Regions from separate parts of the Homo sapiens genome. Here region 1 is linked to region 2. A link means that fine-mapping ties the variant in region 2 to the expression of a gene that starts in the linked region. Tissue or cell type: blood mononuclear cells. Region 2 holds a variant in brackets; the other region holds the start of a gene. All regions are shown on one strand. Distances are between the middles of the regions. Region 1 holds the start of GHRL (ghrelin and obestatin prepropeptide). Region 2 holds the start of MIR378B (microRNA 378b).

Region 1 (13,304 bases), 36 kb after region 2:
GGCACAGACCCGTGATAATCTGCTTGTGCACTGACTCGCAGGTGACCCTGTGGAAGGAGTCAGTTGATGGGCAGTGGGTGTGCATCAGTGATGTCAACAAGGGCCAGGGCTCCGTATCAGCATCAGTGACAGAGGGCCAGCAGAACGAGCAGTGACAAGACAGGTGGGGCCTGGCTCCCCACCCGCCAGCTCCAGGACTGCCCCTTCCTGGGCCAACTAACCAGACAACTGGGAAGAGCCCCCAACTCCAACAGGATTATTTTCCCAGGAGGAGTTACAGATGCAGCCACAGATTGATCATCTGCCTTAACGTGATCGGAGATGCTTTGTAATCTACTGTCCAGCTGAAAGCACTCATGTTACGAGGAAGAAACTACAAGTGATGTTCAAATCTATTTTGGGTCATTTTTATGTACCTTTGGGTTCAGGCATTATTTGGGGGGTTTTGTTTCCAAAGGAACTAAATAAAGTCATATTGCTTATAATTCCTGCTGCGTTATCCTAACCACCCCACCCCACCAGCTCAGTTTGACTCTTGTCGGTCCACGCACTAGAACAAACTATTCACAAAGGCCACGGCTGTGATGGCCTGGCTTAACCCCACGCACAAAGGTGGCTTGTCACTGCATGAGCATCTCTGATTCAGTTTATACTGAAAGCACCATACAGAGCACTGGACTCAGCCTTTGGTGACAAGGACTGTAGCCCTGGGTCTGCTACTTACCCTCTCGGTACACATCCTGTTCTGCAGAATGGGACTAATACAGTCTGCCCTACAGGATGGCTGCAAGATTCAAACACGCTAGTGCATCTGGTGACCTACAAAATGCCACGCAGGTGCAACGTGGTATTAACCAAACACCAATAGTTAAGATGCTGGCCCAGAAAGTGGGCACGATTCATTTAGTTTATTGACCCTGTCAGGAAAAGGAGGGCCCCATGATGGGAGACCTAACTGACCCTGAACCAGGTATCACCTTTCAGCGGAGGCCCTGTGACCCTGACAATCGCCATAGCCATCAGTGAGCCTGCGGTGAGCCAGACCCTACACTGGATCTTTCACACATTCGCTAATTTAAGCAACACGAGAACCCCGTGTGGGTGTACCCAGTTCACTGATGAGGAAGCGCTCAGAAGGTAGAAGCCCTGCCCAGGACTGTGCAAACGTAAAGCCAGCGTCAGGGCCTGGCCCATCTCAACAGTTACTCCCCACTGTAGAATCAGGGTGGGAGCTGGGGGGCTCTCCTCAGCTGTAATACAAGGATGTTTCTCACACCAAACCTTTGTATGAATAGATTCAGATAAAAGGTCAGCCCACTTGCCTCAGGCCCCCTAGTCTGCCTACTTCTTGTCCTTCCCTCCTTTTTCAGCAGCAAAATCCCCTTTAAAAAAAAAAAAAAATCTTTGATCATACTATGTAACATAGAAGAAAGTGAAACTGCTTTGGTTAAAGGTGAGGACAGAGAGGCCATGGCCTGGCCCAGTCAGCCTCCAGTCAGTCCACAAAGCCCAAGCCTTCTGAGACCAACATGAAAACAGCTGCTTCCTTCCTTCCCTTACTCAGAAAAGCAAAGCCCAGGAAGGCACCTTCACGTGCACTACTGAGTGTCGAGTTCTACAGTGAATCCTTGAACCATATCCACGTCTGCCTCCCTGATACGCTCTGTGCTCCTCAAGCCTGGGCCTGGGCTTCCTATGGTGCCAGCTGCTGTCGCCAAGAAAATACCGAGAAGGAACTAGTCCCGTGTCACTCTGGGTTGGTGGTAGGTTAATGGGTCCCTGACTGTGTGCTCTATTTTAACTCCCACCACCAAGGATTGGTTAAGATAATTATGAAGTTGGCACCATAATAGTTGTTTATACTTAGAGTGGCAACACATTAACCATTCCTGGGTAAGAGGAGACCCCAAAATTTATTACCACAAAATAGCCTAGTCAAATAGAAATACTATCTGTAAAACTTGCCGGGCAGTTGTCAAGCCCAAATGAGATAAAAGTAAGGGAAATTTAAAAGGCATAGAGCTCTGGTTAGGGCCAGATGGCGCTAGCAGCCATATGTTTTTAATCCTTTTGCAAAAACAAAGCAACTGGGACAGCAAAAGAAACCCACAGACCCTAGAACATGGAGCAGGCCAAAGCCTTCATAGACACAATACCTCTGAGAGATCAGCAGGGTGAAGAAAAGGGAGTTTTTATGGTGCTATAAGCCAGAGACCCCAAAAATTGCCATCAAATACTCATCCATTCTGAGTGCAAAACTCAGCAAGCCACTGTGAAAACAACTCCCAAAACTAGAAGATTCACAGGCTTCCATTTACAAGTGAGCCCAGAAACACTAAGGGGAGACCTTCCACTTCTGCATATAAAGGATTAACGATTGTAAGAATTTCCCAGCCAACATGGTGGCTCACAACTGTAATCCCACACTTCGAAAGGCCAAGACGGGCGGAATGTTTGAGCCCAGAAATTCAAGACCAGCCTGCCAACATGGCAAAACCCCATCTCTACTAAAAATACAAAAATTAGGTGCAGTGGTGTGTGCCTCTGTAGTGCCAGCTACTCAGGAGGCTGAGGCACAAGAATCGCTTGAGCCCAGGAGGTGGAGGTTGCAGTGAGCCGAGATTGCACCACTGCACTCCAGCCTGGGCAAGAGAGTGAGACTCTGTCTAAAAAAAAAAAAATTTCCCTGGCTGGGCGCAGTGGCCAGCACTTTGGAAGGTTGAGGGAGGAGGATCTCTTGAGCCCAGGAGTTTGAGATCAGCCTGGGCAACACAGCAAGAGCCTGTCTCTTTAATAATAAATAAGAATTTCCCTCACACTATAGACAACTAGGAAATTAATTCAAGATGGATTAAAGACTTAAACGTTAGACCTAAAACCATAAAAACCCTAGAAGAAAACCTAGGCATTACCATTCAGGACATAGGCATGGGCAAGGACTTCATGTCTAAAACACCAAAAGCAATGGCAACAAAAGCCAGAATTGACAAATGGGATCTAATTAAACTAAAGAGCTTCTGCACAGCAAAAGAAACTACCATCAGAGTGAACAGGCAACCTACAAAATGGGAGAAAATTTTCACAACCTACTCATCTGACAAAGGGCTAATATCCAGAATCTACAAAGAACTCAAACAAATTTACAAGAAAAAAACAACCCCATCAAAAAGTGGGCGAAGGACATGAACAGACACTTCTCAAAAGAAGACATTTATGCAGCCAAAAAACACATGAAAAAATGCTCATCATCACTGGCCATCAGAGAAATGCAAATCAAAACCACAATGAGATACCATCTCACACCAGTTAGAATGGCAGTCATTAAAAAGTCAGGAAACAACAGGTGCTGGAGAGGATGTGGAGAAATAGGAACACTTTTACACTGTTGGTGGGACTGTAAACTAGTTCAACCATTGTGGAAGTCAGTGTGGCGATTCCTCAGGGATCTAGAACTAGAAATACCATTTGACCCAGCCATCCCATTACTGGGTATATACCCAAAGGACTATAAATCATGCTGCTATAAAGACACATGCACACGTATGTTTACTGCGGCACTATTCACAATAGCAAAGACTTGGAACCAACCCAAATGTCCAACAATGATAGACTGGATTAAGAAAATGTGGCACATATACACCATGGAATACTATGCAGCCATAAAAAATGATGAGTTCATGTCCTTTGTAGGGACATGGATGAAATTGGAAATCATCATTCTCAGTAAACTATCGCAAGAACAAAAAACCAAACACCGCATATTCTCACTCATAGATGGGAATTGAACAATGAGAACACATGGACACAGGAAGGGGAACATCACACTCTGGGGACTGTTGTGGGGGGAGGGGACGGGGGAGGGATAGCATTAGGAGATATACCTAATGCTAAATGACGAGTTAATGGGTGCAGCACACCAGCATGTCACATGTATACATATGTAACTAACCCACATATTGTGCGCATGTACCCTAAAACTTAAAGTATAACAATAATAAAATAAAAAAATAAAATAAAATAAAATAATAAATTTAAAAAAAAAACAACAACTAGGAAATCATGAAAAGTACATGAAACAACTACTGCTTTCAGACATAGGACAACAGGCAGTGTTTGGGAAAAGGGAAACAGGTAAGCACAACAAATGCACCAGGTTACTACTACCCAGAAGCAGTTTCTGGGCCAAAAGGTAAAGAGAGACTCCAGAGTCTAGTAGTCTCCAGGAGTTGAAGAGACAGAAGTCAGAGTTCAGGAAGACCAAGGCAGGCCGGGCGCGGTGGCTCACGCTTGTAATCCCAGCACTTTGGGAGGCCAAGGCGGGCAGATCACCTGAGATCAAGAGTTCGAGACCAGCCTGGCCAACATGGTGAAACCCTGTCTCTACTAAAAATACAAAAATTAGCCGGGCGTGGTGTTGCACCCCTGTAATCCCAACTACTCGGGAGGCTGAGGCAGGAGAATTGCTTGAACCAGGGAGGCGGAGGTTGCAGTGAGCAAAGATTACACCACTGCACTCTGCCCTGGGCGAAAGAGCAAGGCTCTGTCTCAAAAAACAAACAAACAAACAAAAAAGACCAAGGCAGAACTGAAGGCAGAAGAGGACGAGAGGAGGAAGCTGCACAGAGCAAGCTCCTGAGAGCTGAAGAGTCTCCTGGAGTCTTTGGACAAGTACTAACCTTCATATATGAAGGGTGAAACCAATAGACCAAGCAGCTGGAGCTCACATAGGGGTGGGAATAGCCCATGTTCCCAGCAACCAGAAAAAAAAGAGACATTCCATCCAGAAGAACAAATATAAGAGTGGCAGCAGGCCAGGCGCCGTGGCTCACGCCTATAATCCCAACACTTTGGAAGGCTGAGGCGGGTGGATCACGAGGTCAGAAGTCCGAGATCAGCCTGACCAAGATGGTGAAACCCCATCCCTACTAAAATTAGCCAGACATGGTGGTAGGTGCCTGTAATCCCAGCTACTCGGGAGGCTGAGGCAGGAGAATTGCTTGAACCCGGGAGGTGGAGGTTGCAGTGAGCCGAAATCACGCCACTGCACCCCAGCCTGGGCGACAGAGCAAGACTCTGTCTCAAAAAAAAAAAAAAAAAAAAAGGAGCAGCAGCCAACTTCTCATCAGAAAGTAGGCAAACCATAAGAAAATTAACATCTTTAAAGTACTGAAAAAATTAAAAAAAAAAAAACCTGTCAGCCTCAAATTCTATACCTAGTGAAAATATATATATATTTTAATACAGACTCTTTCAAATAAAAGCTGAAAGAATTAATCACCAGCAGAGCTGCCATTACAAGAAATGTCAAAGAAGTTTCCTTCAGGCAGAAGGAAAATACTAGATGAAAAACAGGCTGGGCACAGCGGCTCACACCTGTAATCCCAGCACTTTGGGATGCTGAGGCAGCAGGATTGCTTAAGCCCAGGAGTGTGAGGCCAGCCTGACCGACATGGTGAGACCTTGTCTCTACAAAAAAAAATACAAAAATTAGGATTTACAAATACGACTTCAGGCCCAGCGCGGTGGCTCATGCCTGTGATCCCAGCACTTTGGGAGGCCAAGGCAGATGGATCACTTGAGGTCAGGAGTTCAAGACCAGCCTGGCCAACATGGCAAAACCCCATCTCTAGCAAAAATACAAAAATTAGCTGGGTGTGGTGGCGCATGCCTGTAGTCCCAGCTATTCAGGAGGCTGAGGCAGGAGAATTGCTTGAACCCAGGAGGTATGGGTTGCAGTGAGCCAAGATCACGCCACTGCACTCTAACCTGGACAACAGAGCAAGACTCCATCTCAAAAAAAAAAAAAAAAAAAAAAAAAAAACAAATATGACTTCAACATATTGCAAATACCTTCAACAACTCCGATATCCCTTTGCAAATATCCCTTTACAGGCTGAGGTGGGAGGATCAGTTGAGCCCAGAAGGTGGAGGCTGCAGTGAGTTGAGATCACGCCATTGCATTCAACCACAGGTGACACAGTGAGACCCTGTCTCAAATAAAAAAGAAAAGAAAAATGGATCTGCACTAAGGAATAAGGAGCAACACGATAGTAAATACCTGAGTTCATAAGACTTTTTCTTAATTTCTTTAATCTGTCTAAAAACTTTGGCTATTTAACATGCATTGTGGGGCTCATACCTTAAGTAAAAATAAAATGTGTGACAATAATATCACAAAGAATAGAAGTGGGGAAATGAAAGCATTCTGTGGTGCAGTTCTTACACTATCTGTGAAAGGATATCGTAGTTGTTGAAGGTATTCTGCAATATGTTGAAGTCATATTTGTAAATCCTAGAGCAACCACTCAAAGAATAGAACAGTACAGTATAGCTAATAAGCCGACGGTGAAGACAAAATGATACCATTCAAAACCCTCTAAAAGTGGTTATGACAAGAGAAAGAAAAGGAAGAACAGATGGGACAATGGAAAAATTGGTGACTTACAAATAGTCTGGAGATTAACAGTAATGTGCTAACACTGGTGTTTTAATTTTGATAAATGTACTACGGTTATATAAGATATTCACGAGTGGAAACTGAATTGGGTTATTCAGAGAGAAAGATTTCATCTTCCATATGTTTATATTTTCTGCTGGAAGCAAGCATTTATAATCAAAATTTACCTGGGATACTTGGTAATTTATAATCAAAATTACCTGAGATACTTGAAACAGATTCTAAAGCCCCCACGCCAGAGCTACTGGATCAGAATCCAAGGATGGAGTCTTATAAACGTGCATAAAACTTATGAAGCTTTCCTCATGAATCCAACACAACCCAACACAGGTCTGTATCTGGAAATTGAGACGAGATGGCCCTCCAAGCCACGTCCCACCCTGAGGTCGTCCTATGGCTCTTAGCGGTCCATAGACTAAAAGGCTGGATGATCAGCAACGCTGAGACAACAGTTTCAGTACAGCAGTGGGGATGAGAGGCAAGGTCAAGTTTTGAGGGGCCAGGACACAGCAAAGAAGAGGACACAAGGAAAGGGGAAGGAAATGGAGATGGTAACACGAGGGGAGGGTGGGATCGGTGCACAACAGACGTTTTCAGGATTAGGAACCTGGGTGTATTTTAAGGCAGAAAGCAGAAGCCACTGGAGGGGAACAGAAGACACGAGAGAGGCAAAGTGTTAGAGCTTTGGCCCCAAGATGGCCGGAGGCTAGGGAAGCCCCAGTGAGAGAGGCAGAGCTTGGCGAAGAGGAGGGATGAGAGAGCATGGCTAAGGTCAGGGAGGATTTAAGAGCGATGGCCGCCTATCTAGAATGAGCCGCATGTGGCTGCTGAGCATTTGAAACATGGCTAGTCCAAATTGAAATGCACTGTAAGAACACACACTGGATTTCAAAGACTACACATCTGTAATCCCAGCACTTTGGGAGGCAAAGTCAGGCAGATCACTTAAGCCAGGAGTTCAAGACCAGCCTAGGCAACATGTCAAGACTCTGTCTCTACAAAAAATACAAAAATTAACTGGGTGTGGTGGTGTGACCTGTAGTCCCAGCTACTTGGGAGCCTGAGGTGGGAGGATCATCTTAGTCCAGGGAGGTGGAGGCTGCAGTGAGCCATGATAGTGCCACTGCACTCCAGCCTGGGTGACAGAGCAAGAACCTGTCTCAAAAAAATATATATGTATATTCATTTAGACATATGCTGTTGCACACTTAGACTATAGTATGGTATCAGCATACGTTTTATATTTACTGGGAAACCAACAAAATTCGTGTGACTTGCTTCATTGTGGTCTGGGACCAAAGCTGTAATGCCTCCAAGGTATGCCTGTATATTTCTATTGCAAAATGTGAATCTCGAAATTATAAAAGCTACAACTAGGACAAAAAGCAACCCCACCAAATAGCCCTATATCAAAGAATAAAATCTCTTTCTAGAACCCCAGAATTTGCCTCTTTCAGACTGAAGTTTAGCCAAATCTATGAAAAAAGAGCTTGCTAAACCAACTAATTATCAGTACAAATAAAATTATAATGAAAAGTCTATGAAGATAATTTGTTCTCAGATGCCCTTCACATATAGCAATTAATTCACAAATGATGAGTCACTCATGTGCCTTCATGAAGGCAGGCCCTCAAGAGACCCGCAACAGAAAGGAAAGCCACCGACTGGAGAGAACCTGCTTCCTGAGCCCCACCAAGTTCCAAAAAGGAGAATGGGGCTTCGTCCTCACCCTCAAGGAGTTGCCAAACTGGGCTTGGTTATTATTCACACTTGAAAAGAATGAGGAAGGTCAGCCAGTCCCCTCCAGGTCGCTCGGGCTTCCTCCAAGCTCCTCTTGGTTCAAATTTGCTGTGTCCTCCAGCCGGCATCTCTCCTCTGTTCCGTAACTGACAGGGCAGCGAGGTAGCTTCCGGATGACTCCTCCCGCCATGGTTCTTCCGTCCATCAGCTCTTCCTTCCTCAACTCTGTGGTATGTGGCTAGGGGAGTTTCCAACTCCCAGGGGACATTTCAGTTCCCCAAAGATAACACAGCTTTGCACAGTGGATGTTTACTTGCTGGTGGTCTTATCTAAGATCAACATTGGCAGCTGTGCCCGGAGAGGCCTCCAGGGTCCAGGTAAGTGGAGGCTTCATGTCTCAGGAGGTACCTGGTCACCACAGTTAGGATTTTTCTGTTTGGGGATTTTTTTTTTTATGGGTTGGTGGCTCTGAAAAAGCTGCAAGTCTTCTCTGAGGACTACAGACCTCTCTCCACCCTCTCCACATTCAGCCTCTCTGGGCTCCAGGGCCAAAAGATGTCTACACTCAGGTGGCAGACAGGCCTGTGAAGACCTCCTGGTGACATGCTCATATGTTGCTGGGACTAAAGGTGGGATTTTAGCCACCACAGTGGGTTGGTGGTGAGATGTTTACCAACAGGAGGTACTTTGTCCCTCATGTCCACTTAAAGATTCAGTCCAACCCGGCCTGTGCTTCTGCTGTCCCAAGAGACTCTAGAAAGCTCCAATCCTCCCTGAGGTTGATCTTTTAAGTCAGGGTAGGTGGTCATTCGGCAATCAACTGCTCTACTGCCTCAATGTCCTCCTCACTGGACGTCCTGCCCCAATTCCATCCTGTTCAGCGCAGACTGATTTTCCTGGAACACAATGTTCATTATGGAGCCAGATGGCATATCAGAAAGAGCACTGTATTAGGAGTCAAGAGATCCATGGGGGAATCCCAGCATTGCCCCTGATGGCTGTATAGCTTTGGGGAAAGTGAGGCCCTCTTGGCATTCAGTTTTTCTTCCAGCGAAATAAAGGATTCAGCCTCCCAGAGCTTTAAAGTCTTTCCAACTCTTTCATTCATTCTATGGTCTCTCTCTCCTCAAGAATCCTCAGTGGCTGCCCTCCTGCAAAAAAAGCCCAAACTTCTTGGGCTAGCAGTTCCCAAGGCATCCATCACCTGGCCCCAAACCACCTTCTTATGTTTTTGTTATGACCCCATCGCCACCCTCCCCCAAGCCACCCAGCCTTCTCCATGCTGCCCTGATGTACTCTACCCACGCCTTCACCTCCCCTCTGCTTGCCGCAAAGCCCTCCCTCCAAAGCCCTGCCCCGAGTTCACCACAGGCCTCTTTCCTGGAGCCTTTGCTAACATCCCTGCCGCAAGCCCCAGCCTAAGGTGAGCTCCTCTCCTGAACTGCTAGAACTTCTCTGCAGACAACTCATTGGCCCTTAGGGGTTCCTGCCTGGGCACCCAGTTGGATGAAGCACTCCAGAAAGGAAGAAATTCCTGGGGCCGAGGGAAATGAGGCAGTGGCCTTGGCCTATGCTGGGAAGTCCTATGGGCCTGGTATGAAACCATTGTCATCTGCAGGGTGTTTCACAGGTTAGAAGCCACTTTCCCCCCATCGCCTCATTTCACCCTCAAAGACTCTGGGTAAGGGGAATTATTTGTGGTCGGCGTAAGGCCAGTCAATGAGAGAGGAGCCAGGCCCGTGCTAAGCGTAGATCTTCCACCTCCAGGTCCAATGCACTTCCCTCTCAGAAGAGGCATCCGCTAAAATAGGGACCAAAGCTGCTGGAGGGAGGCAAGGCAAGCTGCTATGTGAAAAAACGCCAGGCCAGGCAGTCATGTCACACCTGGCAGAAATGACTGAAGCATAGCCACTGGCTGAAGTTATCCCCACACCCACTCTCTGGAGAGGATGATCAGGAGCAGTCTGCTCAACCGGGAGGTGGGACTCCTCCTCGGGAAGGTGTAGAATCACCAGCCTGGCTCCCTGCGGACTCCCGGGGCTCACAGAGGCCAGAGCAGCAACAGCACATGGGAAACAACGGGGCGCTGGACTGGGGAGGTCTCAGAGCTCTCCTAGTGATGACAGCCTCATTTTACCCAGGGAGAAAGGGCGAGTAAGCTAAGGTCACACAGCAACAAAGCTGCACCCAGACCCCAGAGCCACTCTCCTCCCTCCCTCCTCCACCAGGGCCATGCCCACTTGGGGCACCCCGCCACCGTGTTCCAGGGACAGCTGGAGCACATGCTTCTTCCCTCGCCAACCCAGCAATTCCGCAGGGCATCTGACCTCCACTGTTGACTTCTACCCAGAGGACAAGAACATTTTTAGTTCCCAAGGAATGTACATCAGCCCCACGGAAGCTAGGCCACCTCTGGGATGGGGTTGCTGGTTTAGAACAAACGCCAGTCATCCTATATAAGGACCTGACAGCCACCAGGCACCACCTCCGCCAGGAACTGCAGGTAAGCTCTCTCTACTCTCCGTGTGCGTTTGCTGACAGGTTTATTGTCCGTGACTGCTGCCCGTCCGTTTAACCTCTCTGGGCCTCAGGAGTCCCCTCTAAACACGGGGGATGTCGGACTGTCTGGCTGGAAGACAGAGCTTCATTTAGGAGCTACCTCTAACCCCCTCCCTGCTGAGTGCCCTGGGGCCCTTGCTGGTTCAGCTTCCTCCCTCCTCATGAAAAGACTCGCCATGAGCTCTCAGAGCCTGGGACAAAAGGCACCGGGGAGGACCCCCAGCCCCTATCAAGTCCTGCTGCCAGGTGTTCTGCCCTGAACGGCCTTGGAGAAGAGAACACACATCCATCATCTTCTACCTTGGGAGGTGGAAGCGGGGGTCCTCTCTACACAGCAGTCAGGACCCCAGATGGTAAAGCCCTTCACGCCATCTGCTGGGCTCCTACCTGAGCAAGCTCAGAGGCACATGAGAAGGGGAGGCAGCTGCCTGGAGACCCTCTCTCCCCCAGGCCCACCTGTCTGCAACCCAGCTGAGGCCATGCCCTCCCCAGGGACCGTCTGCAGCCTCCTGCTCCTCGGCATGCTCTGGCTGGACTTGGCCATGGCAGGCTCCAGCTTCCTGAGCCCTGAACACCAGAGAGTCCAGGTGAGACCTCCCCACAAAGCCCCACATGTTGTTCCAGCCCTGCCACTTAGCAACCAGCTCTGTGACCTGGAGCAGCAGCGCCATCTCTGGGCTTCAGTCTTCTCCCAGAGCACAAAGGACTCTGGGTCTGACCTCACTGTTTCTGGAAGGACATGGGGGCTTAGAGTCCTAAACAGACTGTTTCCCCCTTCCAGCAGAGAAAGGAGTCGAAGAAGCCACCAGCCAAGCTGCAGCCCCGAGCTCTAGCAGGCTGGCTCCGCCCGGAAGATGGAGGTCAAGCAGAAGGGGCAGAGGATGAACTGGAAGTCCGGGTCGGTACCTCTGCAGTTTTATGCTTCTGTGGCAGCGAGGAGGGTGGGGTCAGGGGAGAGGGAGGGCAGGGAGAGGTGGCAGTGAACAGGGTCCCAACTACAAGCTCCCCAGAACTATAAAACCAGTACCACAGGAGTTGAGCTCTGCCCTGGGCTCTGTGAGGTCTTTACCCATTAAGAGAAAAATATCTAGAAGAAGTAACTTTGCTACAACAGAATAGGGACGGAAGGAGCCTGGGCAGAGGAGAGAGGGTGCCAGAGCCTCCAGGCGACTCAAAGGGGACAGAAAATACAGTGCCCAGAGACAAAGACACCCAGAAATAAACGGCAGGCCCAGACTGAAGATGTTGCTCTGCAGAAAACCATGTTTTACTCAGGGGCTTCCAGGGCCTGGACTGTGGGGTGGAGTGCTTCCGAACAGCACCCTGGATGGGAGGGCTGGCGCCAGCCCAGGCTCCGGCACCCACTCACCTCGCCTGGAGGCAAGGAGGGGGCAGGTGTGGGTGATGTGCTCTGACAAATCGTGCGTGGGGCAAGGAGAAAGTTAAGACAACCCAAGGATGGAGAGGAGGAGGGAGTAAAGGATTTTACGGGGTTTTCTATGCAACCTTCCTGTGGCTGTGGTTCAGGGAATGGTTTCTTCTAAATATTTGGTTGGTGACACCATTTCGCAGCTAAGGCAGGATTCCCCCAAGGTAGCACTTAATAATGGCAGCTATTAGACGCTGTGCCCGAGGATACCAACTTCACCTCTAACTGCCCCACCTCCTCCCTACGACAACCTGTGAGGTAAGCAGGGCTGGCATTACTCCCACTTTAGAGCCAAGGAACAGTTCAGAGGTGAACTCACTTGCCCAAGGTACCACAGCGGTGTGTGGAAGGGACGCGACACAAGGTCAGGGCTGACTCCAGTCCCCAAGCCCTCTTCCTCCTCACTGGTCTGATGGACAGAGACAGCGCACAGTGGCCCAGGGGAGGCCTCTTCCTTCCAGAGGAGTGAAATGTGCCCGCCTTGGCCTCTGCCTGCCTGTTTACCATACTCTTCTCCAGTCGAGGAATAAAGCCGTCGGAAGCTCCCCCAGCCCCTGCTCGCTTTCATCCTCACCAGCACCTGGCGGTGTTCAGACCTTTCCTCTACACGGTGGGATCCACTAGATTCTCATCTGAAAGAGCTGCATACCCTTAGGCCAAAACCAGGATATTTTGCTGGTGAGACGGCTAGCTCCACACATGGTCATCCCAGCCAGAGGAGCTGCCCAGTACCCAGATGAGAAAGAGGTCTTGGTGGCTGACGACGCAAGGTGGGGCTGGTACAGCGGGAACTTTGCAGTTTCTGTGAAAGCTAGCCTTGGAGCATGTGACCCACACTGCCTTGGCTGGAACCAGAAGTCAAACGCCTGGGGGGTGTTGGGGCTGCCAGAAGAGGAGTGGCTGCAGAGACCTGGAGCGCCCCACTACCAAACCCCTCACAACCGAGTGTCCCACCCACCTCTCTCATCTCAGGCCCCTCTACCTCCCCCCAAACGTTTCCCTCCCAAAATCAAGTTTCAGAGTAGAAGACTTTGGAGACCAAGTCCCACTCCCATTGAACAGATGGGCCACTGAGGCCAGGAGGGAAGCTGCCCCCCACCAGCCAGCACTGTGTCACCA
Region 2 (15,719 bases):
ATCGGATCCAGACACAGGTACAGGAGGCTCTTGGGGGCTGGGCCCAGGCCTGGCCGGGGCGGGCCAGGGGATGGAGGTGAGTGTGCTTGTGCTGCCCCCCAGGGCCCAGCTCTGGTGCTGAGGGAGGGTGGCTACAGAGGGGTCCCGGCCAGCTCTCACCAGCCACTTGCACACCCACTCCTGTGGCTGCTAAGGAACAGCACGGCCTCCTCAGAGAGGTCCCATTGTGCCCTCTCAGGGCAGCACGGGGAAGTGGTAGGGGTCACACCCACCATGGTCTCCAGGGGGATTTCCCTGAGAGGGTGGGGAAGGGTGGCTCTGAGGGCAGAGGTGAGTGAGGGGACTGTCGCTCAGGGCTGGGGGCACCCACCCACAGGGGCCGTGTGAGGCTGGACAGAAGCTGCAGGCCAGGTCGCCCAGGGTCCCCCAGGGCGTGGTGGTCAGGGGGTCCGCCGCCTCCACGGGGGCTTCAGTTGCTCTCCCCAGCTTCCCCTAGGGGGTGGAGAGGCTCTGGGGAGCAAAGGTCAGTCATCCTCAAGCACACACAGACACACATGCACACACCAAGCACACCAGGGGAGCACAGGTGCAGGGCGTAGCCAGCCAGAAGCAGGTTTCTTCCCCAGAGCAGAGAGAGCATGGCTGCCACGTGGCACACGACACACCTGCGCGCCTCCCCCGACCCCCCCACACACATACCACATGCTCTCACATGGTCCCCTTATGCCTGGAGCAGGTGTTGTAGCTCACAAGTGCTGTCACAGCCCTGCGAGGGGAGGGTCAGAAGGGACTCTGTGGGTCTCTTGCCCAGACCATCTGGGGAGCTGGAGTGGGAGCTCCTCCATGCCCCAGCATGCTTGGGCGAAGTGCAGTGTAGAAGCAGCCACCTGGCCACCATCCTGCCAGCTGTGGCCCAGCACCTCATTTCCATCCGATGTAGCAGAGAGCTCACCTGGGTCACCTCCCACCCCTCTGTACCCTGTCCCAAACCTCACCTCATGTGACCTTCACAGCCCTGGGAGGTAGATGTGACTCCCCCAGTTTTAGAGGTTACCAAGGTCCAGGAGATGGCCCCTTCTACTGAGCTGGCACAGCTGGGGTGGGGACTGGAAGCCGGTTTCAGACCCGGAGGTGCCTGACACGGGCCTGGGCTCACCCTCCCTGGTTAGGGCCCCGCAGCCACCCCTCCCAGCCTGCCCCCACCTCCTGGGAGGTCCAGGACAACTCAGTGAATATGTCCCTGGTGCTGTCACTGCCCTGGCGGCAAAGCCACGCAGGGGTCTCCAGATTACGGGAGGAAGCAAGGACTGCGATTTCTTGAGTGGGCAGGGGCGCCTGTCTTGCCTGCCTCTTGCGGAATGCTAACACGGGTCAGGTGCTTTGCCACTTACAGATAACCCTGCCAGGCAGGTGGCATTGACCCTTCTTAAGAACAAGAAACTCGACTCAGAGAGGTGGCTTGCCCAAGGTCAGCTAGCTAGTAAGTGACAGAGCTGGAATTTAGGCCAAGCTCTGTCCACCTCAGGACCCCCACCACACCCTCTACCTCCACGCCTGTACCTGAGGGAGGCTGAACACTGCTCTCTTCCCTCCAGATACCATGTTTAATCACTGCCTCCCCCACTGGCCAGCCCACTGGCCCCTGAGCCACTAGCACAGGACAAAGGCCGGACCCCCTGTGTCCTCCCGGGGACCCTGGGGCCTGCAGGTGGGCCCAGAGCTGAGCAGACGTTTTTCAGAGCCTTGGAGTGTGTCTGGTATTTTTGTTTTGATTTAAGTGACATTGTCGTTGTTGCCGTGGCTGCGGCTGTTCTTGTGACGTTGCCCTGTCAGTCATGTAGCCGTTGTGCTCGTTCTTCTCGCAACTTGTCTCGTTCTCTCCTCCGTTGCAGATTGAAGTAGTCAATACTTTCAAGAGCGGGGCCTCCTTTCAGGGGGCCCTGCGGAGACAGTCCTCGGTCACCAGCCAGAGCCAGGATGTAGCCAATCTCTCTAGCCCTAGTCGCGTGTCGTTGTCCAATGCTCTTTCCTCTCCGACCAGCCTTCCTCCTGCTGCAGCCGGGCGTGAGTGTGACTCCTTACTGCCTCCGGCTGGCACTGCCCACGCCAGCTCCCAGGCGGGCAGGGGCTGGGGCACCAGAGGACATGGGGGGCAGCCGGTCACAATCAGGCCCAGGGGGATGAAGGGTCCCAGCCACCGAAGAGGGTCCCGTTGGTCAGGAGAGCGTAGCCAGTCATGCGGTGGCAGTCACTCAGTGGACCAGGGTCAGTCAGAGGGTCATTAGGGTCCCAAGTGGCCAAAAAGTCTGGTTCAGTCAAGGGGTCACCCTTGGTCAAGAGGACATCAGTGACCAAATGGTCCCAACCCACCACAGGGTCCCGGCAGCCAGAGGGGGACAGACATGGAGGGGACACAGAGTGTCCCACTGGCCTAGGGTCATATGTGGTCAGGAAAAGCCTGGACCACCAAGGCAAGGGTTGGAGTTGGACAAGAGGTCCCAGTCTTGCAGTCAAAGTCAGCAGAAGGGTCACTGTGGGTCAAGGGGAGCAAGCCCCTTAGGGTCCCAGTCAGTCACATTGGGATCCACCCAGGAGAGGGTCACGTCAACCAGACTTTCCCAGTTGGTCAGGGGGCACCCACAGTAATGAGGGTCATGGTCAAGGGGGACAGTTGAGCCAAGAGGTCACTGCAGGTCAGAGGTCATAGTCAGCCAGGGATCCCCAGGCCACCTAGGAGCTCACAGCCTAGACGCTGCACCCCAGCAGTTCAGAGTCTCTGCCCGCTTCCTGTCACTCCTCCCCTTGCACTTTTGACTGCATCAGCTGCCCTGCAGACACCTTTCCCTGTGGCTGAGCTTGGAACTTGCTGAAGTTCTAAGCCCTTCCTGGAAAGGACAAGGTCCCTGGCCCATTCAGCTTGACCCCTGGTAGAAAATGGTGGGTCGAGCCTCACATCTTGCCTGGGTGCCAGCAGGCCCAGAGGGACCTGATATGCCCTTCAGCATCCTGCCCTCCTTTATCTGAGAGATAGCCTGGGACTGTGGCCCCTCCTTCATCTCCCTCCTGCCAAGCTCATCTCCTCATGCCACCACTTCTGATCTAGATCACTCATTGCTGGCTTTGTCTAGCTCTTTCCCGGACCCATGGCTTCGGGCCCCATAGGGAACAAGTCTGTCTTTCCTCCCATCGCCCTGCTATGTTTCCAGTCAGGCGCTTCTGATCTGCAGGGGAGCCCCTGGTTCTGGTCTTCTCCAATTGGCATAGTGTCAGTCTTAGCCTCCAGCTTCTTTGATGAGAAGTAGACTCCAGCTCACCCCTTGAAACTTTATAAAGGGCCTCTACCCCCATCCAAAACCAGAACACCCACAACACAACCCCTGCAGCCAAGCAGGTAACCCGGTGTGCTGGTGGGAGCGCCTCCCTCAGTGCCTCCAGTAGGAGGCGCGGGCCACAGGGAGCCTGTTGATGGCAAATGTCCACGACCCATAGCGGCAGGACAGAAGCAGAAAGCAGGGAAGGAGCCTCTCAGTGCTCATTCGTCAGCACAGAAACGCAGTGCTGGGGAGGACCGGGGAGCCAAGATGAAATGGAGATGCATTTCAGCAGATGGTGGCTGAGTCACATTTCCATGAGATACCGTCACTAGGCAGTCACTGCCAGGATTTCTCGGGGAAGGCAACACCGGTCCCATCCTCCTCCCCTTTAGACCAGAGAGCTCTCACCTTAGCAGCAGCCTAGCCAGCTGACCTCCCAGCTCCTTTCTGCACCAACTCAGCTCTGGCCTTGCTCAGCACCCCCACCTATCCTGAGGTGCGGTAACCAAGTGTCCCGGCAGGGAGAGCTACATGGGGAAGAATCCACTTCTGTTCTGCCACCCCTCCCGATGACTCCTGCGGCCCTCCGGCTGGGGCTGCCTGCTAGCAGTCTGGCTTCTGGGTGAAGGCCCAGTTCTTTGTCCATCCCAGTTGAGCCTCTTTCTTGAAGGGCAGCACTTCACCCTGGCCACGACGGAGCACACCTGACATCGCTGGGCAGGCCCACTGCCTTTGGAAGTCGTCCCCGAGTCAGCCCCTCATCTTAGCTTTCACAGCCTGGAAGCTAGAGCTGTCCGCTCAAACCTCAGCCACTTCTTTCTCAGCTTTTCTTCTGCCTCATTTGCAAAGCCATTCAATAGGGCCCGTCCGGGAACAACACTTCTTTGCAGAAATGCCCTTTTCTTCATTTCTGCAGAAATGCTTAGACAGGAATGTGTCTACACTGACCTCCTTCGAGGCCAGATCAGTCCCCTGTAGCCCGTGGTTACCCCAACTTTGGAACAGTCTTGGAAAAGAAGCCCAGGCAGAGGCTCAGCCAAAGCCAACTTGACAGTCCTTGCCCTGACCCCTCATTCTCTCAGGGGACCCGGCAGGGTTGGCCAGGGCCTCCCCACCCTGCTCACCATCTTGCCTCTCCCTCTTCATGCCTCCTGGAGAATCTCGCATTCCCCCTCTGTGACAGAATCCAGCCTGTAATTCTGGGTGCCTCCTGAGACCCTTCCTGAGCCTATAGTCTTAAAAAGAGCCTGACCAAACCCCTGCCTGAGGGCACTGGTTCCCAGACAGGATCACAGCCTCTGTGGTTTCAGTACACACATTTGGACAACACAGCCTCGTGCCTCCTTTGCTTGAGTAGTGTCTACAACAGTGCTGCCTCCTCTGGTCTCCAAGGACTCTGAGGACCCTCTAAACACCAGCCAAGGTCCCTGCAGAAGCCAGTGTGCTTTCCTCCCACAGGGAGGTTTAAACAGGTGGCCAGGAAGTGACAGAAGGGCCCCAATTTGATGGGATGAGGAAGTGGGCCGCCCCACTACCCCACAACTCCTTCACCCCCACCGCACCCCACCAGCCTTCTGAGGGGGATCTGCTTCCTGGGGACTCCCCAGCAGAGGAGGCTGCCCATGTGCCTGCTGAGGCAAAAACACCTGCAGCCAGTGTGCCCTGGAAGGAGTCAATCCACTGTCCCCTGGGTTATGAAGAGTTGACCACAAAGGCCTGGGACAGGGCCTGACTTCTGACCTGGGACACTGGAGTGAGGAAAACCCCTGAACACATCGCAGGCCCTCCCCTCCCCACGGCACCACCGCAAGATGAAGGCCTCAGCAGACAGACGCACATGGTAAGCCTGACCGCAGTCACAAGGCACATGGCACGAGGATGCTCGGGAGGGAATGAATTGGTGCACTCTTCTGACTAACTCAAAAACGAGGTTGTTTTTGCCCCGGAAACTTAATGGCACGTCCCTATTGCCTTATACCTGAGCCCCACTCAACATTTCCAGAGCAGTTCCCCACTCCCTTTACTTCACAGATGCCTCACCACTGAATTGTGGGAGGGGAGGACCTGCCAACACATCCATTTCGCAGAGAAAGACACTGATGAGGCCAGGGTGACCACAGCAAGGGCGTGGCAAGAGGTCAGACTCCGGAGTCCCTCATTCTTCCCACTAGTCACACCGCTTCCCAGGAGGCCCACAGACCTGGAGCCACAGAGGCTGAACTTCCATTCCGGAACCAGTGCCCACGCCCACAGCCTCATATCGTGAAAAGGAGTCAGTCCTCCAGGGAAGGCCAGGGAAGCTGTTTCTCAGCTTGAACTTCTACCAGCGTGGCCAAGACTGGGGAGAAGGGCACCTTCCCACTGGTGGTCAAGGACAAGATTAGCATCCCACACTTCGATCCAAGGCAAAGCCGCACAGCCTCTCTTTCTCATTGCCTCAAATTCCTAACTCATCTCAAACCATCTTTGTGCTTAGCAAGTCTGTAGCAGGCTCCGTGTTTATCAGTGGAAGTCCTGCTCTTTCAAACCACCCAAGCCAAGAGCCAGCCCCATAAGCCAGGTCCAAGCCACATTCTGGACGCCGTACCTTGCTAGACAGATAAGGCACCTCCTGCTCCCACTTCCCCTGCAGATTCCTGGTTCTGACGACTCCTAGGGCAAGGAGTTTGCACTGTTAGGGGGAGAAATGAAGACAACAAAAAGGGAAGAAAGCTGGACTTCTCATTAGCGTTTTGGTAACTAATTTAGTGCAACCTTGGGTTGGCGAGAAAATGGCTTGCTTTGTGGGGGGAACCCTAGACCTCTCCACTGTCTGAATATTCCATGTGTTTGTTTCCCTAGAGGGCTAGAGAACCCTGGACACAGAGTTCAGCAAGAGAGAGTGAAATTAAAAGAGGTTGTGAGTCTTTAACCTTGAGCCTGAAATGAATGTGAATCAATCCCAGACTCTTGGCTTCCTTGAAGCCGGGTAAACATTCGAGTATGTAGAACCCATCTCAGACCAGGGCCTGTGCGTTTTCTCAGAGCCCTCTGACAACGGGCATGGGTCTCCCTGTTCCCTTTGTGCTGACGAAACCAAAACATCTGAAACCCCGCTCACCAGGTCCCTTCCTCTCCTTCCCCTCACCCCCACGCCCAAATGCAGCTTATGCCAAAAAAAAAAAAATTCCTACCTTTAGGGTAGGCAGGGAGGGGAGATGGAAGAGCCTTTTTTTTTTTTCCCATAGTTTTTTCCATTTCAGCCTCGGAGAGAACCGAAGTGGAGACTTGAGATGGCCGTGGCGGGGTGTCCCAAAAAGTCTCGTCCCCACAGTCTTGTCCAGAGCAGTTCATTTTTTCTGTTGTCTCCATGCCACGGGGAGGGCGGAGGGGCCTCATCTCATTGTGTGTCATCCCCTCTGCGTTGTCAGTCACATGACAGGGTCCTGCCACCATCCCCCTGCCCCACACATACACTAGGTGTTCCAGTCAGCATCTGAATTGCACTTCAACCTCAGAACACACTGAGCACCAGGCTAGGCAGCTACAGCCTTGATGCTATTCCCATTCTACAAACAAGAAAGCTGAGGCCTGCAGCGCCTTCTTTGTTTTCAGTTAATCAAGGTGTAACGGCTCACTTTTCAGGAGATCAGAATATGAACCATCTCTGCAGAGCCACAAAGAGGGACTCCAGGGGGAAAGAGCTCAGAGCAGCCACAGTGGCCATGATGGAGCACCAGCATAAAGGCCGTGTCTGGCTGGCTCTTATTTGGCACTTGTTGCCTCTTATTTAAAGCACAATTCCAGCAAGTGGGGTACCCTGGAGTCCCAGCTCACAGTATGCAAGGTGAAAGGACAGAGGTGCTTTTCAGAAAACAGAAAAGTCAGCACTAACTAGTAAGCGATGACTGACAGCAAGGGAGAAAAAACAAGACAATCCATGGGGTCTTACCTAAGACCAAGAAGGATAATTGACAAAGCTTATGTTAAATTCTTCTCTGTGCACTCTAAATTAGAAGTCAGAGGAGCGTATGACATGCTTTAGAAAGAATTCCCTCTGCAACAGTAAAACAAACCTTCAGCGATGACACTTAAAATCATCAACCACAGTCACCTAGAAACTCCACTTCCATAAAAGAGGGCTTTCCCCACCAGGGTTTCACAAAGGAGCTACCCCTGGGTTCCGCTGAGAGCTCAAGTCCTGGGACTTCAGGGGCCTCCCCACGACCGTCTCGTCCAGTCCCCTGCCTCCCCGCAGGCCTGTGGTGCAGGGCAGCCACTGCTCTGCAGGTGGGTGCCACTTGGCCTGCACACAGCAGCCGACTAAGGCTCTGTCCTGGAGGCGCCAACGCCGCCTTGTTTTCTCCACCTCTGACTCCACTCCGAGTTGGGGCTGGGACGAGAGGAGGAGGCACCTTTGTCCCAAGTCCCATCAGACTCTTGAGATGACAGGCACTGCTGCCCCTCCCAGGAGTCCAGAGAAGGGACACCTCTCTTCCAAGTGAGGGTCCCGTCCCTCTGCACCCTGTGAGGCAGGACAGAGGACAACCAGAGAGCTAGTGTGGCTTGTCCACAGTCAAGGCACCAGATGTGGCAGAGCCAGGATGCAAGTTGGGTCTTTCTGCCTCCAAGTCCAGTGCTCTTTCCACTAGCCTTGAAGACTCAATGACCAGCCTCCTCCCATTCTTCAGCGGAGGAAACTGAGGCCCCAGGACGTGTGGTTCACAACTGAGACAGAAAATGAAAGAACTTGCTGTTTTGTGACTCAGTTCCACACACCCCAGAATCCCACTGGGGCTGGGTTTGGCCATCTGATTCCAGCCTCGTTTTTTGGTTTTGTGTTTTCAAAGCACAAATAAAGAAATAAACAAAATCCCCCAGGAAATAAGAGACCCCAAAGCAAGCTCCAATAACTGGCCGGCCAGGGCTTTGAGTCTATACTCGAGTGTTTACCTCCCAAATGCATGAAGGAAAGAAACGCTGGGTACAAACGACCTCCGTTCACATTGTCCAGGCTTCCAAGTGTAGCCGTGTGTCTGTCTGTGTGTGCCATGTGGCTCCCGGCCTCCCCGTGGCATGCAGCCCGCCCCCGAATGTCATCTGTCCGCCAGCTCCCATGTGCTTTCTGGCTGCCTCTGCTCTGCACCTCAGAAAGCCCTGGGTTGGCTTTGGTTTGCTTTGCTGCCTTTGGTTTGATGTTCCCGTTCTGTTTGGCCCTCATGTGTCTCTCTCATCCCAACTCATCCAACCGTCTCTCCTTTCTGTGCCTTTTCTGTTTGTGACACGTAACATGTTCCATGTTGTATGGTTTCTTAACTGTGTGTGGTTTTCCTAAGATGAATTTTTTTAATAGCCTCTCCTCTTTCCTACTTGATTCCCACCTGGTCCTCCTCCCTGTCTGCATGGTTGAACCTCTGCTTTAAAGTGAACAAGGCTCAGTCTCTCACTAGGTGTGGGTGCCCGCAGGAGTCGACTGTGCTTCCTTTAACCACTGTTCCCCATCATCTCTTTGATGGTGCTTGGTGATTCCTCCTGTCCTAACACTAGTTTCTACCAAAACCAAAGAGATTTTTAAAAACCAGCTCAAGGATGCCTATAACCTGAGCCCCCTTTTTCACTCTCCCCCATCCTGTCAATGCTAATAACACCCAGCGACTATGGATTCCAGCCACCTGCTTTGCCCTAACCCTTCTCCCACCCGCCCCTCCTGTGAGCCCCCCGAGCCTGGCTGTGGTCCCTGGGCAGTGCTCCTGACCCCTGTGCTTCCCTTGCAGATCCGCGTCGTGAAGGCGTTCCGTAGCTCTCTCTATGAAGGTTTAGAAAAGCCTGAATCTCGAACCTCCATCCATAACTTCATGGCTCATCCTGAATTCCGGATCGAAGATTCCCAGCCCCACATCCCCCTCATTGATGACACCGACCTGGAAGAAGATGCCGCGCTCAAGCAGAACTCGAGCCCGCCGTCATCCCTCAACAAGAACAACAGCGCCATCGACAGTGGGATCAACCTGACGACCGACACAAGCAAATCAGCTACCTCTTCAAGTCCAGGGAGCCCCATCCACAGCCTGGAGACGTCGCTTTAGCTGAGGACCCTCTCGCCTGCCCGCCCGCCCTCATGGACCCCGCTGCCACCCGCTTTCCGGGCACCCATCCATCCAGGCACCCAACTCACCCAAGCAGCAACGAGCAACAATCGGAAACCAAATACTGGAGAGAAAACCAACGTTTCCACCCACAGACCCTTTCTCTGGCTGCGATGCTGTTTGAACTCTTTTTCACTTCAAGGCAAGGGGCGGGATCTCCACTGGGGGCTTACGGGAGTGAGCGGTTTTCCCAAAACAAGCCCTTCCTGGCTCCCACCCAGACATGGACCAGCCATGCACCCGCCCAGCCACCACGTCCCCCGCATGAATGTACTGTACACTTTCAATCCTCCCCTTGTTTGGTTTTTGGGGGTTGGGGAGGGGTTTTTGTTTGTTTGTTTGTTTTCTTAGGCGGGAACTGCAAACAGACTCTTTTCTGAGACTATTTATCCAATCCACTGGTCTGTGAGTTTTTGAAATGCTTGCACAGCATGGTCTCAGTTGTATAGATTAATTTAATAACTTTTTGAAATTGCAGAGCTTAACTCGCCTAGTAGATTTGCACCAATGGAACCGAAGAACTTCATAGACACTCACAAGGTTATATCCATTTCTTTGTATCTATATCAACGTATACTTTTCCGAGACTGTATACGTCCATATAGATAGGTAGATATATATATATATATATAAATATATATACATGGATATATAAAGTTTCTTTGCCGGCATGTTGCCTTGTTTCCGCTTAAATTGCTCTATTTTAACTTATTTATGTCCTAAAAGAAGAATGTAATTTGTTTACAAACCTGTAGATAACGTCTTTGGCTATTTGTATGGTTTAAGAACACTGGTGGCTGAGATGCTATAAAAACAGCTCGGCCCAACAGACACTTCCCCTGGGTTGCATCCTGGATGTTTTATGATAGCCATGCTCTGATTTTTGCCTGCTATTTCCGTTCAATAATGTCACTACCGTGAGAGGCTCAGGCAGAAGCCAAATGCTACCGAGTTGCCATCCTGAGGGGTTTAACAACATGCTCCGTAGACGAAGGGAGAGGAGGAGAGAAGGCTTCCTGGGTTTGCAACACTAACGGCCATCCGGCCCAAGGATGCCAGGATCTGCAAAGCACTGCTCGAAGACTTTTCTCTCAATGAAACTCGCTTGAGTTTACTAAGAGCATTTCAAAAATAGGTTCTCTTTGGCACTGTCTGTACAGAGATTGAGGTAGTGTTGAAATATTATAAATGGTATTGTGTTGATTTTTTTTTTTATTTAGTAACTTACAGGTTTGTTTCCTTATTAATGGCAGCATCTGAGCTGTTGGCATATTGGATGAGGATCAGTATGGCTTGCTGCTTTTATTTTTATTTTTGAAGAAGAATAGCCTTTTTCTCTGCACTATTTAGATCCGAATGAACCTTATGATGTGTATATTGAGATGTACTCAGTGTGATTTTAAACCAAATTGTCTTCCTGTAGTCACAATATATACTGTAGCCTTTTAACAGCAAGTCTTGCTTTCCCAAACAGAAAGCCATTCTGAAACCCTACAGTATCACAGGTGAGAAAAGGTGGTTATTTTTTCCCCAAGACAACAGCACTAGTAATCCCACTTAATAAGAGCTTATTTAATTGGATGTCAGCCTCTTAACTGCTAAGCACTTTGTGGGTCTCAGCGTTTTTCATAAAAGAACTTTTGTATTTAATACAAAGTTTGCTTTGAGACTTTTCAGCATATGATCTTTTTTCCATAAACTTGTACAGTGCAAAAGACATTTTGAATACCATGATCGATGATGTCCCATGCTTCGAGGAAAACCAAACACTTTCCGCCTCTCTTGCAAAATCCATTCCTCATGCTGACCCTCCTCACGATGGCTGTGTCAGCCCAGCCCCTTCCCTTCTCCAGGCCCAGAGAACTCTTCCACAAACAAGATGAGAGCCACTCGGGAAAAGAGCCATAGTCAACTGGGAGGGCCTACATCTGGATGGCGGTGGAAAAACTTGAGGGTTTGGGGTTCAAAGTCAGCCCATCCCACCTGGCAAAATCCTCCTGGAAGGAGGACCTTCAAGAGCGCATCACCTGAATGTCGTGAAGAAGTATCTCTGAATGTATCCAGGAGAGGAACTGCATAACCAAAGGGGTGACCAGCCCTCAGATGTGCTTATTGGATTCCAGTACAAACGCCACCAAAGCCAGCCCACTGCTCTCCTACAAGGAAGGAAAGATCTGCACGTGTAAAACATGGGGCAGCCTTGGAACATGGTGTTTTTTGGAGTTTCCTTTCTCACAGTTTTCCATCTCCCCACTTCTTTGATCAGTCATGTGTCCGTGACCTCGTTCCATGACATCAGGATAGCTGTGTTTGCACACCATGCTCCATGTTCATT[C/T]GGAGCCAGGAGGGGTTCTCAGTGGAGCCTGGCTTAGGGAACAGGGAGCGATGGAAGAATGCCAACATTAGCGTTGGTCTTCTCTTGTCAGGAATGAAGGATGCTTGCACACATGCACCCCCTCACTCTCACACTTGCACACATACACACACACACACACGAAATGGTTGGTTTGTCAAAACTCACTGTAGTACATAAAGCTTGCACTCTGCGTCCTATATCTAGCAGCATGGGGTACGTTTGGCAGTTCACTCCATTAGGGGGTAAATAATTTATGACCATTCATCTGTTTTTATGAATTTTTTTATCTAGACAATAATGTAAATAAAGAACTCACCATCTCTGTTCATTTAATACTATGCAATGGTTATGCTTTCAATCGCTGGCTCTTCTGACTCGTGCAGTGTGGTTCTGAAATGTTTGTGGTTTAAAAAAAAAAGCAAAAAACAACATCAAACAGAACATAGTAAATATATCTGTAATGTATACTTTTTTCTACTTTGGGACTGCATCATCCACATAGCTTCTTTTCTGTCCTCTAGACAAGGGCTCCAGGAGTAAGTGGCAGATTTGGTTCTGAGAGCTAAGCTCACCAACTTGTCTCCCCCTCAACAGATGAGGGAAGGGCAGGGAGCCCGTTCAGTGACTCCTGGCGCTGCAGAATCACTCATCTTTGGAGGTGAGCAGAGAGAGCTCTGAGGAGTTTCCTTCTTGCAACTCAGGCGGAGCTTTCTTTAACTCAGGAGCAGCCTCCATTGCTCCCGCCAACCCCTCACCATGGCCCCTTGTCCCCTTGTCCCAACCATAGCATAGAGATGACAAGAGAGAGGCAGTCCTATTTCTGAGACTGGACCAATTAAAATGACTGCACTGGCTCAAAGGACTCTGAACCTGTCTTGTCCTGGGTCCTCCAGTTGTTGGAAGCCACTCTTTTCCCCAACCATGCTGAAATGCCACCTTTACCACACACTGATGTCTTACATAGACTTAGATCTATTTCTGGAACTTCTCTTCTCTTCGCTTACTTGGGTGTCTCATCTGGCACCAGCCATACAATTTTAACTATTGTCAATTTCTAATGTCTTATTATGTGGTGGGATGAGTCCCTTCACTCTTCTTTTACAAAATTTCCTAGTTATTCTCTCACATCTATTCTTCCACATAAACTTTAAATTGTGCCCAGTCCTCCACCCCCTGTCCCATTCCCACCCCCAAATTCTGGGCTCTGTCATTCCCTGTGCCATCATCTTCCCCCCATTGTAATTACTGTCCACTCAGGGCTGTGAAATAGACTATGTTCTGTAAAGAGGGACAAAAAGGGCATCCTGATCTTGAGAGAAGCCTGCTGTTCCTCCCATCATTTCACCTGCCCCCTAAGCCCAGGAGTTGTCATGAGAGGTCACCAGGCCCCCACTCAATCTCAGCTTGGGAACCAAAGTCACCCACCTTGGTTGTGTTGGGGTGGACCCGCCATCTGTCCCTGGTCCAGACGAGAAAGAGGAGTCTCTCCTAGGCCTGGAGCTGGGAAAGAATGTGTGGCCCAGTTGTCTGCACTTCTAATTCTCATCATGGAGAAACCTTTATTCCTATCTCCCTTTCCTGAACTGGTTTTTTGTTGTTTTTGTTTCATTTTGTTTTGGGGGGATAGTTTCTTGCTCTTTAATTTGGAGTCTCCAGTACCTTTGGGATGCAGGCAGTTCTTGCCTGGGCCTTCTCGGAACCCTCACTCCCCTAGCCCACTCTTGCGCTACCTGCAGGAGGCTGCCAACCTGGTGCATTCTGACAAGCCTCCCACCCAAATCTCTCTCCTGCCATTGTGTCCAAAATCCCACCATTAGAGGCTCTTGTAGGGAAGAGCGTTTCTTGAAGGCTTTTAGGCCTTCCAGAGCCAGGAGGGAAGTCAGACAATAGCAGGAAGTCCCCAGGCCTTTTCAAAGTTCCAAACCAAGCTCTCCTGATTTTAATGTAGAGATCATACCAACCCAGGTGGGGGAGGAGGGTCCCCAGCCCCAGGCAGCAGCCATCACCCCCTCCACTGAAAACAATATTGGAGGCTGCTTTGGGACTGCCCTTCTCAGCCCCCTAAGTCTGTTTTGTAATGCCTGTGGTGCTCTCCCTCCTGGACCTTTCCTCTCGGGGGTCACCACACTTTGCTAACTCTTGTGTGCACATATTTTATAATAGAGTAGCGAGGGAATGGTGCCGCCTCCAGCTTCCGTAAGCTGCCCGGGCTCTGGGGGGCTCTGGGACAATCGGGGCTGGGAAGTGACTGTGCTCTTATTGTACACTCTTTATTTCTCTGTATCTTTGGCTTGTGCTCTTTGTAATTAATGGGATTTGTCTGCCTTTTCAACACTATACTGAGCAATAACAATAAATGCACACGTGGAAATGCAGACACGGTACACATCACAAGGCCTTTTTCTGAAGGACAGCTGGGTCCCCGCCCTTCGTGGAGTTGAACTCAGGGGGAAACTGAGTCCCTGGGAGGGAAATGCACTTTGCCCAAGGGCCCACAGCTCAGCGGGCAGTCTCTCTCCTTCCACTAGATCACACCTTTTGAACACCCACCATTTGAGGGAGACAGGCTCACCCTGCCATGAGCCATTAACCTATGAGGAATGGTTGACCATCTCATAGAAGAAGACTGGGGAACGGGGCCTCAGGACGAAGCGGAGGAGGTTTGGGGGCAAGGGGTGGGGGGGCAAAAATCAGGGAAAGTTGGCCTGATTTGGGGTCTGGATTAACCAGAGGGAGGAGATGCGGAATACAGACACTGGATCTAGGTGGCACCCCCCTACTGGGGAGAGGGGTAAGGCAGAGGGAAGCCTGGCACCTGAGGAGTCTGGACTTCACAAACCTCTGCTGAACATTGGCAGAGAAAGAGAATATGCCCAGACCAACAAGTAATCCCTAAGGTTGGCCCAAGGGTTGAGAGTTACACACACACTCACACACTCACACAGCTCTTCTTAGGTTGAACTGATCCCCAAATCAAGCGCCATAGGCCCATCTGACTTCCATACGCAGTTTCATATCCAAGGGTTCATTTAATCCCAATATCAACCTTCAGAGGAGGTATTATTATAATTCTCACTCAAAAGAGCAGGAGACAGCATCTCAAAGAGGTGAAGAGCATGCCCACCTGGTAAGCAGGAGATCCAGCACTGATACCTAGCAGTCTTGATGCCAGCATCTGTACTCTAAACTGCCATATTACAGCGCCTTATGGGCCAAATACCTTACAGCAAATACCTTAATGAATAAGATACAGTTCTGTTGCTTGTCACAAATCCCCAATCTCTTCAACATCAGTGTCTACACAAGGAAATTCTTTTAATCACAATTATGCCTGATGCATTATATTTACATCTAATATGCCCTTGTCCTCATTTTCCACTCAAAGAAAGTGAGGCTCAGAGAAAAGTGACTTGGCCTTATCACCTAGAAAGTCAGTGGTGCAGCTATAGAGCCAAGGCCAGAGCCTGTTCCTTGAAGAACAGGAGATCTGGCAGGACGCAGCGGCTCACACCTGTAATCCCAGCACTTTGAGAGGCCGAGGAGAGTAGATCACCAGAGGTCAGGAGTTTGAGACCAGCCTGGCCAACATGGTGAAACCCCATCTCTACTAAAACTACAAAAATTAGCCAGGCATGGTGGCACATGCCTGTAATCCCAGCTACTCAGGAGGCTGAGGCAGGAGAATTGCTTGAACCCGGGAGGTAGAGGTTGCAGTGAGCCAAGATCATACCACTGGACTCCAGCCTGGGCAACAGAGCTAGAGTCCATCTCCAAAAAAAAAAAAACAAAAAAAACAACAGGAGATCCAAGAGATCCCCTGAAACCTGCCTTTGTTCCCTGCTCTAACCTAACCACCACCCCCTCACACCCCTGCAACAATTTCTCCACTAGAGGGCAATAAAAAATCTTGAAAGCTGCAGTGGG

Evidence for each region. PIP is the estimated chance that this variant, and not a neighbour inherited with it, causes the effect.
Region 1: GHRL starts here. The variant in region 2 is fine-mapped to the expression of GHRL in blood mononuclear cells (TOPMed, PIP above 0.99).

What each region holds. Positions count from the first base shown.
Region 1 is chr3:10,288,112-10,301,415 of GRCh38, reverse strand. GHRL (ghrelin and obestatin prepropeptide) reads left to right here and starts at 8,469. Exons shown (of 6, transcript NM_016362.5): 1 at 8,469-8,574; 2 at 9,965-10,700; 3 at 11,207-11,343; 4 at 11,538-11,654. The coding sequence starts at 11,236. It overlaps GHRLOS (ghrelin opposite strand/antisense RNA), which reads right to left. Exons shown (of 6, transcript NR_073568.1): 6 at 7,967-9,348. SEC13 (SEC13 homolog, nuclear pore and COPII component) reads left to right here. Exons shown (of 9, transcript NM_183352.3): 9 at 42-485. The coding sequence ends at 155. RefSeq lists enhancers at 8,277-8,571, 8,382-8,631, 8,642-8,711, 10,223-10,825, 12,656-13,271.
Region 2 is chr3:10,322,474-10,338,192 of GRCh38, reverse strand. It overlaps ATP2B2 (ATPase plasma membrane Ca2+ transporting 2), which reads left to right. Exons shown (of 23, transcript NM_001001331.4): 22 at 1-17; 23 at 9,068-14,170. The coding sequence ends at 9,379. It overlaps MIR378B (microRNA 378b), which reads right to left and starts at 7,964; the gene lies at 7,908-7,964. RefSeq lists an enhancer at 9,361-9,909. The variant C/T (reference allele first, on the strand shown) is at 11,775.